Linked DNA regions of Homo sapiens: region 1 is linked to region 2. The links come from fine-mapping of genetic effects on gene expression. A gene starts in region 2. The other region holds a variant in brackets. All regions are shown on one strand. Distances are from middle to middle.

The links. PIP is the estimated chance that this variant, and not a neighbour inherited with it, causes the effect. A credible set is the group of variants that fine-mapping cannot tell apart.
Region 1: its variant is the best candidate, but not a certain one, in a credible set for the expression of LDLRAD2 in skeletal muscle (GTEx, PIP 0.68).

What each region holds. Positions count from the first base shown.
Region 1 is chr1:21,945,907-21,951,280 of GRCh38, forward strand. No RefSeq gene overlaps it. Among named protein-coding and RNA genes, the nearest start is that of HSPG2, 11 kb to the left of the region's middle. The variant G/A (reference allele first, on the strand shown) is at 3,297.
Region 2 is chr1:21,809,707-21,815,036 of GRCh38, forward strand. LDLRAD2 (low density lipoprotein receptor class A domain containing 2) reads left to right here and starts at 2,559. Exons shown (of 5, transcript NM_001013693.3): 1 at 2,559-2,830; 2 at 4,692-5,117. The coding sequence starts at 2,746. RefSeq lists silencers at 1,045-1,195, 4,924-5,043 and an enhancer at 2,350-2,644.

The DNA.
Region 1 (5,374 bases), 140 kb after region 2:
TGCAGTGAGCCAAGATCACACCATTGCCCTCCAGCCTGGGCAACAGAGCAAGATTCTGTCTCAAAAAAAAAAAAAAAAAAGAAGAAGAAGAAGAAGAAGAAAAAGAAAAAAGAAAAGAAACTGCACTTTGACCATGCAATACTACTCAGCCATGAAAAGGAATGAAATAATGGCATTCACAGCAACTTGGATGGAGTTGGAGACCATTATTCTAAGTGAAGTAACTCAGGAATGGAAAAATCAAACATCATATGTTTTCACTTATAAGTGGGAGCTGGCCGGGCATGGTGGCTCATGCCTGTAATCCCAGCACTTTGGGAGGCCGAGGCAGGCGGATCGCCTGAGGTCAGGAGTTTGAGACCAGCCTGGCCAACATCATGAAACCCCATCTCTACTAAAAATACAAAAATTAGCCAGGTGTGGTGGCAAACACCTGTAATCCCAGCTACTGGGGAGGCTGAGGCAGGAGAATCGCTTGAACCCGGGAGGCGGAGGTTGCAGTGAGCTGAGATCGCGCCATTGCACTCCAGCCTGGGCGACAAGAGTGAGACTTCATCTCAAAAAAAAAAAAAGTGGGAGCTAAGCTGTGAGGATACAAAGGCATAAGAATGACATAATGGACTTTGGGGACTTGGTAGGGGGAAGGATGGGAGGGGGGTGAGGGATAAAAGACTACACACTGAGTACAGCGTACACTGCTCAGGTGATGAGTGCACCAAAATCTCATAAATCACCACTAAAGAACTTATGCAGCTAAGCAAACACCACCTCTTCCCCAAAACTATTGAAATAAAAATAAATAAATAAAAAGAAGCTGTACTTTGGATGAAAAGGACACTGGCCGAGAGTTAGAACCCTGGGTTGAAATCCCAGCTCTGCAATCAGCTGCAGGCGCTTGGGCAGTCACTTCCTCTCACTAAGCCTCAGTTTCCCCCTCTTCAAAATGGGGCACTGAAACCTAGCCTGGCAAGCTGGGGAGGGTTGAGAGCCTGCGTTTCAGGCCTCGGCAGCATGCCTGGCACACAGCGTGAGTGCTCAATGAGCGACGTACTTCTGCAAGTGTGAAAGACTTTCCTCGGCCACTCCCAGCCACGGGGACACCAAGGCCACTCCTGAACACAAGGGGGACAGTACAGCAGGCTGTGGCATTGTCTGCAGCCAGCATGCTGCTTCCTGTTTACATGGACCCTGCAGATGCATGGCTTGAACTGTAGACCTGGGAGGCTTCCTGTGGCCTCTGCATGGCCAGGTGGAGCAGAGGACCTTCCCTAACAGGCTTATTTTCCCTGAACTCTGGCTGAATAACTTGTGGAAGGGATTTGTGAACAGTAAGTATCTATCCTGAGAAGCAGTTTGGGCAAAGGGCTGAGATCCTGTCTCTCTGGGATACAATCCAAACCCCAACCAATGGGAAAACCTCATTTGAGCACCTACTCAGTACGAGGCTCTATAATGACATCTACCATTCATTGAGCACCTACTGTGTGCATTTGCAGAACACCTTGCATTTGCAAGATGTTGTCCCTGTGAAGATAATTATATTATTGTGTACCTATTCTGCATATAGTACTCCGTAATGTTAATACCGAATATTTTCTGAAAAGCCAATGTGTTCTATGCACTTTAATCATCTTTATCATACTCATTTATACCCGACCACTCTGTGCCTCAGTTTGCTCATCTGTAAAATAAGGATAATGGTACCATCCTTAAAGAGTTGCTGTGCGGCCGGGGGCGGTGGCTCATGCTGTAATCCCAGCATTTTGGGAGGCCAAGGCGGGTGGATCACTTGAGGTCAAGAGTTCGAGACCAGCCTGGCCAACACGGTGAAATCCCGTCTCTACTAAAAAATACAAAAATTAGCCAGACATGGTGGCAGGCACCTGTAATCCCAGCTTCTCAGGAGGCTGAGGCAGGAGAATCACTCGATCCCAGGAAGCAGAGGTTGCAATGAGCCAAGATTGTGCCACTGCACTCCAGCCTGGGCGACAGAGCGAGACACCGTCTCAGAAAAAAAAAAAAAAAACAGGCTGGGCTCAGTCGCTCACACCTGTAATCCTAGCACTTTGGGAGGCTGAGGCGGGTGGATCACAAGGTCAGGAGTTTGAGACGAGCCTGGCCAACATGATGAAACCTCATCTCTACTAAAAATACAGAAATTAGCTGATGTGGTGGTGCACATCTGTAATCCCAGCTGCTCAGGAGGCTGAGGCATGAGAATCACTTGAACTCGGGAGGCGGAGGTTACAGTGAGCCAAGATTGAGCCACCACTCTAGCCTGGTCAGCAGAGTGAGACTCCATCTCAAAAAAAAAGAAAAAAACAAAAACCAAAACCAAGAGCTTAATTAATGTTGGCTGTCATCATTACTATTGTTAATTATTGAACATCCATTACATGAGACCCTGTAATCATCCTTAAGATAATAGTAGTTATTATTACTGGGCACCTATTGAGTGCAAGGCTTGTAATCAACATTAATCTAATATTCAAGTCCCTATCATGAGCCAGAAGCGGGCTAGATACTGGAGACCTTAAGAGCAGCACCCTAGGCAAGGATCTTACACTCTCACTGGGAGAAAGTGCACCGTTTTGGAGGTGAGCATCTCCAGGAGAGTCAGGGACAGACCGCTCTGAGGCCTCTGAGAGCCAGGAAAATACAGCCCTGGAATGAGAAGGGTGGCTTTAGATGGCCAGACAGAGGCTTTGGGAGTCGGGACACCCTTGAACTGTCTCTTGAACTAGGCCAAATGGATTCTAACAAGCTGTGTTCCTGCGAATGTTCACCTGGGGAATGGGTCTCTGGCAAGATGAGGACCCACCAGACTAAAGCCAAAGTCTTCTCCCTGAGGAGGGAAGGGGTGCAACAGAGAAAGGAGTATGCCACATGCTCCACTGTGGGCCCAGGGAGGATTGCCCTTGTCCTCCAGAGATGGAATAGAAGGGAGGGTGAATTCAGTGGGCCAGGAGTTTGGCCCCTTCCCTCCTCCTGCCCTGGGACCACTGTGGTGATCTCATGGTGGGGATACTCAGGTTTGTCACTTTCTCTGACTGGCCACTGCCTCCAAACACCGTGGAACCTGGTGGGCCTCCAGGTTCTGCATTATCTCAAGGTCAGCCCCATTCTGAAGTCTGAGCTGCTATTGGCCTTCACATTGCCAGGGTGATGAGGAGAGCTCAAGCAATAAGAAACCTGAAGCCTGAAGTTCATCACCATATAGAAATGGGCCCTGAGGCCTGAAACGGCACCTGGTTAGCCTGGGAAGATGGCTCAGGGTACAGGAGGCCTGAGTTCTT[G/A]GGTGCAGGTACTCTCAATCCTCAGCCTGAGAGGCTCCAGGCCTGGCCTGGTTCCCAAGAGAAGACACTCAGAAACATCAGAGTCTAAGGGCCCTTAGAGATCATCAGAGCTACTGCACCCTTGTTACAGATGGGGAATCCGAGGACTGGAGTGAGAAGTGGTATATCCAAGATCTCAGGGCAGGTTAGTGGTGGGACTAGGCTGGAATCCCTGTCTCCAGGGTCCCTTAGCCAGCAGGATGGTGGGTTGCTGAATGCCCTATGTTCCAGCACCAGACTCAGTTGGGTCTCTGAAGGAGCTCAGTTGGAGTTCTTGGTGGCCCAGGGAACATTTTCCCAGATATTCCCAGCAAGAAATTCAGCGTAGTGGGAAAAGGGGACCAGCTCATCTTGATCCTTCCAGCCCTCCCCTGGCACAGACAGAACCACTCTGCAGAGATTTCCCAAAAAGGGCCATCCCACTATCTGCTACTGTGCCTCGTGGACTGTTCCAGTGCCTCTCACACTAGCCACCAGGAAGCTTTACTCTATGTCTAACCTAGGCCCTGATCATTAAAATCACACCTTTAAAAGAATAAACATATATCAAGAACTTAGAACAGTTCCTGCTATATAATAAGTACTCTATGAGTGCTTGTTATTTTTCTTATAATTCGTATTAATTAAACATTTCTGCTCACATGGGACTGTGCTAAAATCAACAATCCTGAAAAGAGAGGAATACGCATAGGAGTTGGGAATGGACAGCCAGTCTGTTTCTTCACATGGGGCAACCAAGGCTAAGGGAGGACAGCAACCTCCTCAGTGATCCATTCAGGATCTAAACCAGAGATTCCAAGCCGAGACCTGTGGGTTTTACATTTAGCCTGCAAGTATTTTTTTTCAGCCCACAGAGCATCCTGACATATTTGAATTTGTCGCTGACATATAAAATCAGGTCCCTGAGGCTGGGCACGGTGGCTCATGCCTGTAATCCCAGCACTTTGGGAGGCCGAGGCAGGCAGATCATGAGGTCAGGAGTTCAAGACCAGCTTGGCCAACATGGTGAAACTCTCTCTCTACTAAAAATACAAAAATTAGCTGGGCGTGGTGGCGTGTCCCTGTAATCCCAGCTACACAGGAGGCTGAGGCAGGAGAATCGCTTGAACACAGAAGGCGGAGGTTGCAGTGAACTGAGATTGCACCACTGCACTCCAGCCTGGGCAACAGGGCGAGACTCAGACTCAAAAAAAAAAAAAAAAATCAGTTCCCTGGATTTTCTTATAAGGCCTCAACCTGTTCGAGAGGCGGGTTGAGACTAGGCAGTCCCTCTCCACCCATCCACAGTCTATCATTCCCTGCTACTGCCCTGCCTGAAATTCTCTCATTTCACTTTTCCCTGCCTGGCCCCAGAGGCCCTTGAGTTTATAACCCTAATCTAAATGGCCATTCCCCTCCAACAAAGTCTTAGAAGAAGTATTTTGCCACAGACGATTTATTTTCCACAACTGTGGCCTGAGGGGCATGTGCACGTTTCACAGTTGGCGTCAGTGTCACCACCAGCTTGGGGGTTTGGAGATGGGCTCAGGGTCACTCCAGCCTGAGCAGATTGCTTCCCAGACCTTGGGCAGACAACCTAAGGCAAAGAGCCCATTGCTAAGCAAAGGGAGCTCAGGCAGCTTTGTACGTGGACCCCGTGGCAGCGCGATAGTGAAGTTCTGGCAATGAGACCTGCACGGATAACTCGTGTTGGTGGAGTCATCCAGGCACTGCAGGGCACTGGCACCCCTGAGGGACAGCACCATGCAGGTGCTGGTGGTGGAGTTGTTTGGGATGGTCACGCTGGTGCTGGGGCTGGAGTAACTCTGGGGCAAGGGGTGGTCCTGGTGGTCTAGGTTGAGGGAGCTGGCAGCCCTTTCCAGGTAGTTGGCTGCAAGCTTTGGCAGGCTCTGCAATGTCTTGTGGCAGCTGTTATAGGCATTGGTGGATTGGTCCAGGTAGTTGATGCCTTTGATGAGCTGGAGGAGTGGGGCTGGAGGAGTCCGAGGGACAATCCTTACAGAGCAGGCAGCAGGGGCTGCCCTGGAAAGCGGTCTTTC
Region 2 (5,330 bases):
ACTCTGGGACGCCGAGGTGGGCGGATCACCTGAGGTCAGGAGTTCGAGACCAGCCTGACCAACATGGTGAAACCCCCATCTCTACTAAAAATAAAAAATTAGCTGGGTGTGGTGGCACACACCTGTAGTTCCAGCTACTCGGGAAGCTGAGGCAGGAGAATCTCTTGAACCCGGGAAGCAGAGGTTGCAGTGAGCTGATATCATGCCACTGCACTCCAGCCTGGGAGGTTGCAGTTAGCTGAGATCATGCCACTGCACTCCAGCCTGGGCAACAGAGTGAGACTCCATCTCAAAAAAAAAAAAAAACAAACAAAAGGTCGGGCGCGGTGGCTCACGCCTGTAATCCTAGCACTTTGGGAGGCTGAGGTGGGTGGATCACAAGGTCAGGAGATCAAGACCAGTCTGGCTAACACGGTGAAACCCCATCTGTACTAAAAATACAAAAAATTAGCCGGGCGTGATGGCGGGTGCCTGTAATCCCAGCTACTTGGGAGGCTGAGGCAGGAGAATGGCGTGAACCCGGGAGGCGGAGCTTGCAACAAACCAAGATTGCGCCACTGCACTGCAGCCTGGGCGACAGAGCAAGACTCAGTCTCAAAACAAAAACAAAAACAAAAACAAAACAAAACAAAAACCATATAATCCCATGCAGGTGATGAGTTCTGAAGTTTAAGCTTCAGTGGGCTTCATGATAAATTCATTCTTGCTGAGGGAAGATTTGAGTCTTTTTGGAGTTCCCCAAGGTACAGATTTGGACATCATACACTGTAGGAAATCAAGGTTGCATCAAATGACCGCTCCAGGAGGGAGAGCTGTTAGGGAATAATAGGTCCAGAGGTGTTTGTTTTGGGTTTTTTTTTTTTTTTATTTTATCGCCCAGGTTGGAGTGCAGTGGTGCAATCTCGGCTCACTGCAATCTCCGCCTCCCGGGTTCAAGCGATTATTGTGCCTCAGCCTCTGTGCCACAACGCCCGGCTAATATTTGTATTTATAGTAGAGATGGGGTTTCACCATGCTGGCCAGGCTGCTCTCGAATTCCCAACCTCAGGTGATCGCCTGCCTTGGCCTCCCAACGTGATGGGATTACAGGTGTGAGCCACTGTGCCCGGCCAGGTCCAGAGGTCTTAACCTTCTCATGGATTCCTGGGATTTTGAGGTGGTGTCTCAGGCACTGCCAATTTGGGCTGCTTAGCTCCTCCCCTCCCCCACACTTGAAACATCTGCTTAAATAATAACGATGACATTAATGATCATCATTCAAGCTGAAATACATTGGTTACTTTACTACATGATAGACACTATTCCAAGTACCCCACTTGTATTAAGTTACTTAATTCTTTTTTTTTTTTTTTTTTTGAGATGAAGTCTCACTCTGTTGCTCAAGCTGGAGTGCAGTGGCACAATCTCAGCTCACTGCAACCTCCACCTCCCGGATTCAAGCGATTCTCCTGCCTCAGCCTCCTGAGTAGCTGGGACTACAGGAATGCACCACCATGCCCGGCTAATTTTTTTTGTATTTTTAGTAGAGATGGGGTTTCACTATGTTGGCCAGGCTGGCCTTGAACTCCTGACCTTGTGATCCACCCACCTCTGCCTCCCAAAGTGCTGGGATTACAGGCATGAGCCACCAAGCCAGGCCAAGTTACTTAATTCTTACAATGCAACTATGTGGTTGGAATTAATCATTATCCCATTTTCCAGAGAAGGATGCCAGGGCTTGAAAAGCTTCAGTTTTATAGATAAAGGTTCCTTGTAACATACCTTTTGAAAAAAAATTGTTCTACTAATAACACGTTTTGAAAAAGTCTGAATTAGTCCAGGGTATTTATTTTACACATGGGAAAGTAAAATCCAGAAAAAGGGGTCATTTGTTCAATGCCACACACTTATTCTTTCATTATTTCCTGGGCGCCTGCCTTGTGCCAGTGACTGTGCTATGACATAAGGGTTCAGAGGTAAACAAGATACTCATGGAATATAATTTTAGTGGAGGCCAGTGGACAATATATACAAGAAGAAATGAATAGGCAAAATAATTCCAGACAGTGCTGGGATGATACATTTGAGATGTGATTGAGTGACAAAGAGAGAGAGTGTTAATTTAGTTGGAGAGGTGGTCAGGAGAGTGTGGTCTGTGGAGGTAACATGTGAGCCACAACCTGATGACCTGAAGAAGTCAGCCGTGCACTGCTATGGGGGGACAACACTCCAGACAGAGGGATCTATGAGTGCAAAGGCCCTGAGGCAGGAATGGCTTGTTAGTAATACAGCAGACTCCTGGTCCAGTGCTCCTTCTCTGCCTGCTGCTCTCTAGGCCCTCAGAGAGGCTCCTTTGGTGTCCTGGACCTCCCTCAAGCTCAGTCCCTAAGGGGCCAGCTGATCTAGGAAGGTAGCAGATCTGGCTTCCTGTGGGTCCTCCTCCCAGAAGCCCTATGGCTGAACCGGATCTGAGTTTCCTGGTTCCTGTCTGGCAGAAGGGGAGCAGATCTCCTCCCTGCCTCCTCTCCCCAGGCTCTAGCCCTTGCTCCAAATCTCCATGGCAACCCCTGGACACAGTTCTGAACCAAATGAAGAGGATCTGGAAGGCAAAGCACTAAGATCATAGTGAAGACTTGCCTCCCCCTTCTCCTTGTGTCCCACCAGCCTCCCTGCTGGCCTGACCAGGCCCCATACTCCAGTCTCCCCAGAGACCCCAAGCTGAAGATTCTGTGGGTCTGCCCCATTGCTGGGCACAGCAGAGCCTGGATGGAGGCTTGTTGTCTTCTGCAGTTGCCCCAAAGGTTGCTCTTGCTGGGGGCAGCCGCCCTGACTGCAACTGCTTTGGAGACAGGTAAGTATCAGGGGGCTTGGTTGGGGCACCCAGAAGACTTGGGCCCCCACCATCCTTAGAGACTATGTTTCCCCAGTCAGCACTCATCCTGCTGGGCTGAGACCTTTTGAGCTGGGGGAGGCTGGGAAACTGTGTCTGGTCTTGCTTGGCATCCCCAAATCCAACCCAAAGCCTTCTGGAAGGCTTGGATCTGCCAGTCACCTAGAAGCAGGAGTCTGGGAGTGGGCAGGACAGCCCTCAGGGCCTGCTTTGCAAAACTCTGTAGGCTTCGGATTCAGAGAAGCTGCATTTACACACTCTGCCACTTCTTATGTTTGTACCTTTGAGATCATTGTTTCAACTCTCTGAATTTCTTTGGCAGTAAAATGAAAATAATAGGCCCTTGCCCCTTAAGGGACTATGATTATTGGCATATAAGATGAGATAAGTCATGCAAGGCACTTCATAATACCTGGCACATAAAAGGTGCCAAATTCCCGGCTGGGCGCAGTGGCTCACGCCTGTAATCCCAGCACTCTGTGATGCCGAGGCGGGCGGATCATGAGGTCACGAGATCAAGACCATCCTGGCCAACATGGTGAAACCACATCTCTACTAAAAATACAAAAATTAGCTGGGCATGGTGGCATGTGCCTGTAATCCCAGCTACTTGGGAGGCTGAGGCAGGAGAATCGCTTGAACCAGGGAGTCGGAGGCTGCAGTGAGCCGAGATTGCGCCACTGCACTCCAGCCTGGCAACAGAGAGAGACTCCGTCTCAAAGAAATAAAAAAAAAAAAGGGTGCCCAATTCCCTTACTCTCTAAACTCCATGCCTGCCCTGTGTACCTTCAGGGTAGGCTCTGGCTTTAGCAGAGAAATACCAAATATTGGAAAGTGCTCCCACATCCTGAGCTCTGATGAAGGATTTTTTCCTCAAAGACCCACATCCTGGCTGGTCCTCAAGTACCCACTGGTCCCTATCTTGCACCAGAAAACCCACCTCCTCTTTCCTCTCTGTGCTTACAGAAATCAGGGCTACTTTGAGTACTTGCACATCTTCTCATTTAATCCTCACAACAACCCTGTACCAGTGAGGATGTTTTGGGCTGTAAGTAACAGATAACAAACTAAATGGGGCTTAAATGGTAGGATATTTGCTATTTCAGTTAAGAGTGGTCATAGGTGATTCCAGAGATGGTTAACTCAACGGCTCAACAATGTCACTGTTCCTCTGAAATGCTCTGACCTCATCTTTGCAAAATGGCTGCTGCAGCTCTGGACATCCCATCCTCATCCTCAGTCAGCAGCTTTCAAAAGCAGGAAGAAAAGGGGCTCCTTATCACACAGCTCTCCCCCTCCCCTTTTTTTTTTTTGGTGACGGAGTCTCGCTGTGTTACCCAGGCTGGAGTGCAGTGGCTTGATCTCAGCTCACTGCAACCTCCGCCTCCAGAGTTCACGCGATTCTCATCCTCAGCCTCTCGATTAGTTGGGATTACAGGTGCGCACCACCATGCCCGGCTAATTTTTTGTATTTTAGTAGAGATGGGGTTTCACCATGTTGGCCAGGCTGGTCTCGAACTCCTGACCTCAGGTGATCCACCTGCCTTGGCCTCCAAAGTGCTGGGATTACAGGCGTGAGCCACTGCGCTCGGCCCCGCATCTTAGGGTTTCGAATAAGGGATTGTAGATTTGAATTAAATTAAATTAAATCATTTAATCCTTACAATCATTCTGAGATTGATTAATCATCCCCATTTTACCGATGAGGAAAATGAGGCTCAGAGAGGGCGAGTAACTCGCTTGGGATCACACAGCGGGCAGGGGACAGAGTAGAGTTCGGGGTCGCGCCGCGCGGCTCCAGTTTCCGTGCCTTCCGCTGCAGCCGACCTGGCGGAACTGTGCGGGCAGACGTGGCAGGGGGACGGGCTGCTGCTGCGCTCGCACGCCGCATCGCGCAGGTTCTACTTCGTGGCTCCGGACACCGACTGCGGGCTCTGGGTGCAGGCGGCAGCCCCCGGCGACCGGATCCGCTTCCAGTTCCGCTTCTTCCTGGTCTACAGCCTGACCCCCGCGCCCCCGGCGCTCAACACCTCCTCCCCGGCCCCGGCCGACCCGTGCGCCCCCGGCTCCTACCTGCAGTTCTACGAGGGCCCGCCGGGGGCGCCCCGGCCCCTGGGGTCCCCACTGTGCGGCCTGAACATCCCGGTGCCTGTGGCATCCTCCGGACCCTTTCTAGGCCTGCGCCTGGTCACGAGAGGCCGCCAGCCCCGCGTGGACTTCGTGGGCGAAGTCACCTCTTTCCGTCTGGGTGAGCTGGGGCTGAAGGCCGGGACGGGACCCTCTGCAGAGGCCATGCGGGACTGGGGCCACAGTGGGGGCCCCGGTGAGGGCCGCTGCCGACAGGGGAATGGCAGGGGTGCCCGAAGCACAAGATGGCAGGGACTGGGTCCAACGGGAGGGAAGAAGGTGGTGGCTAGTGGCAGAGTCACAATAAGGGACCTCCCGGATCCTAAGAGCCAAC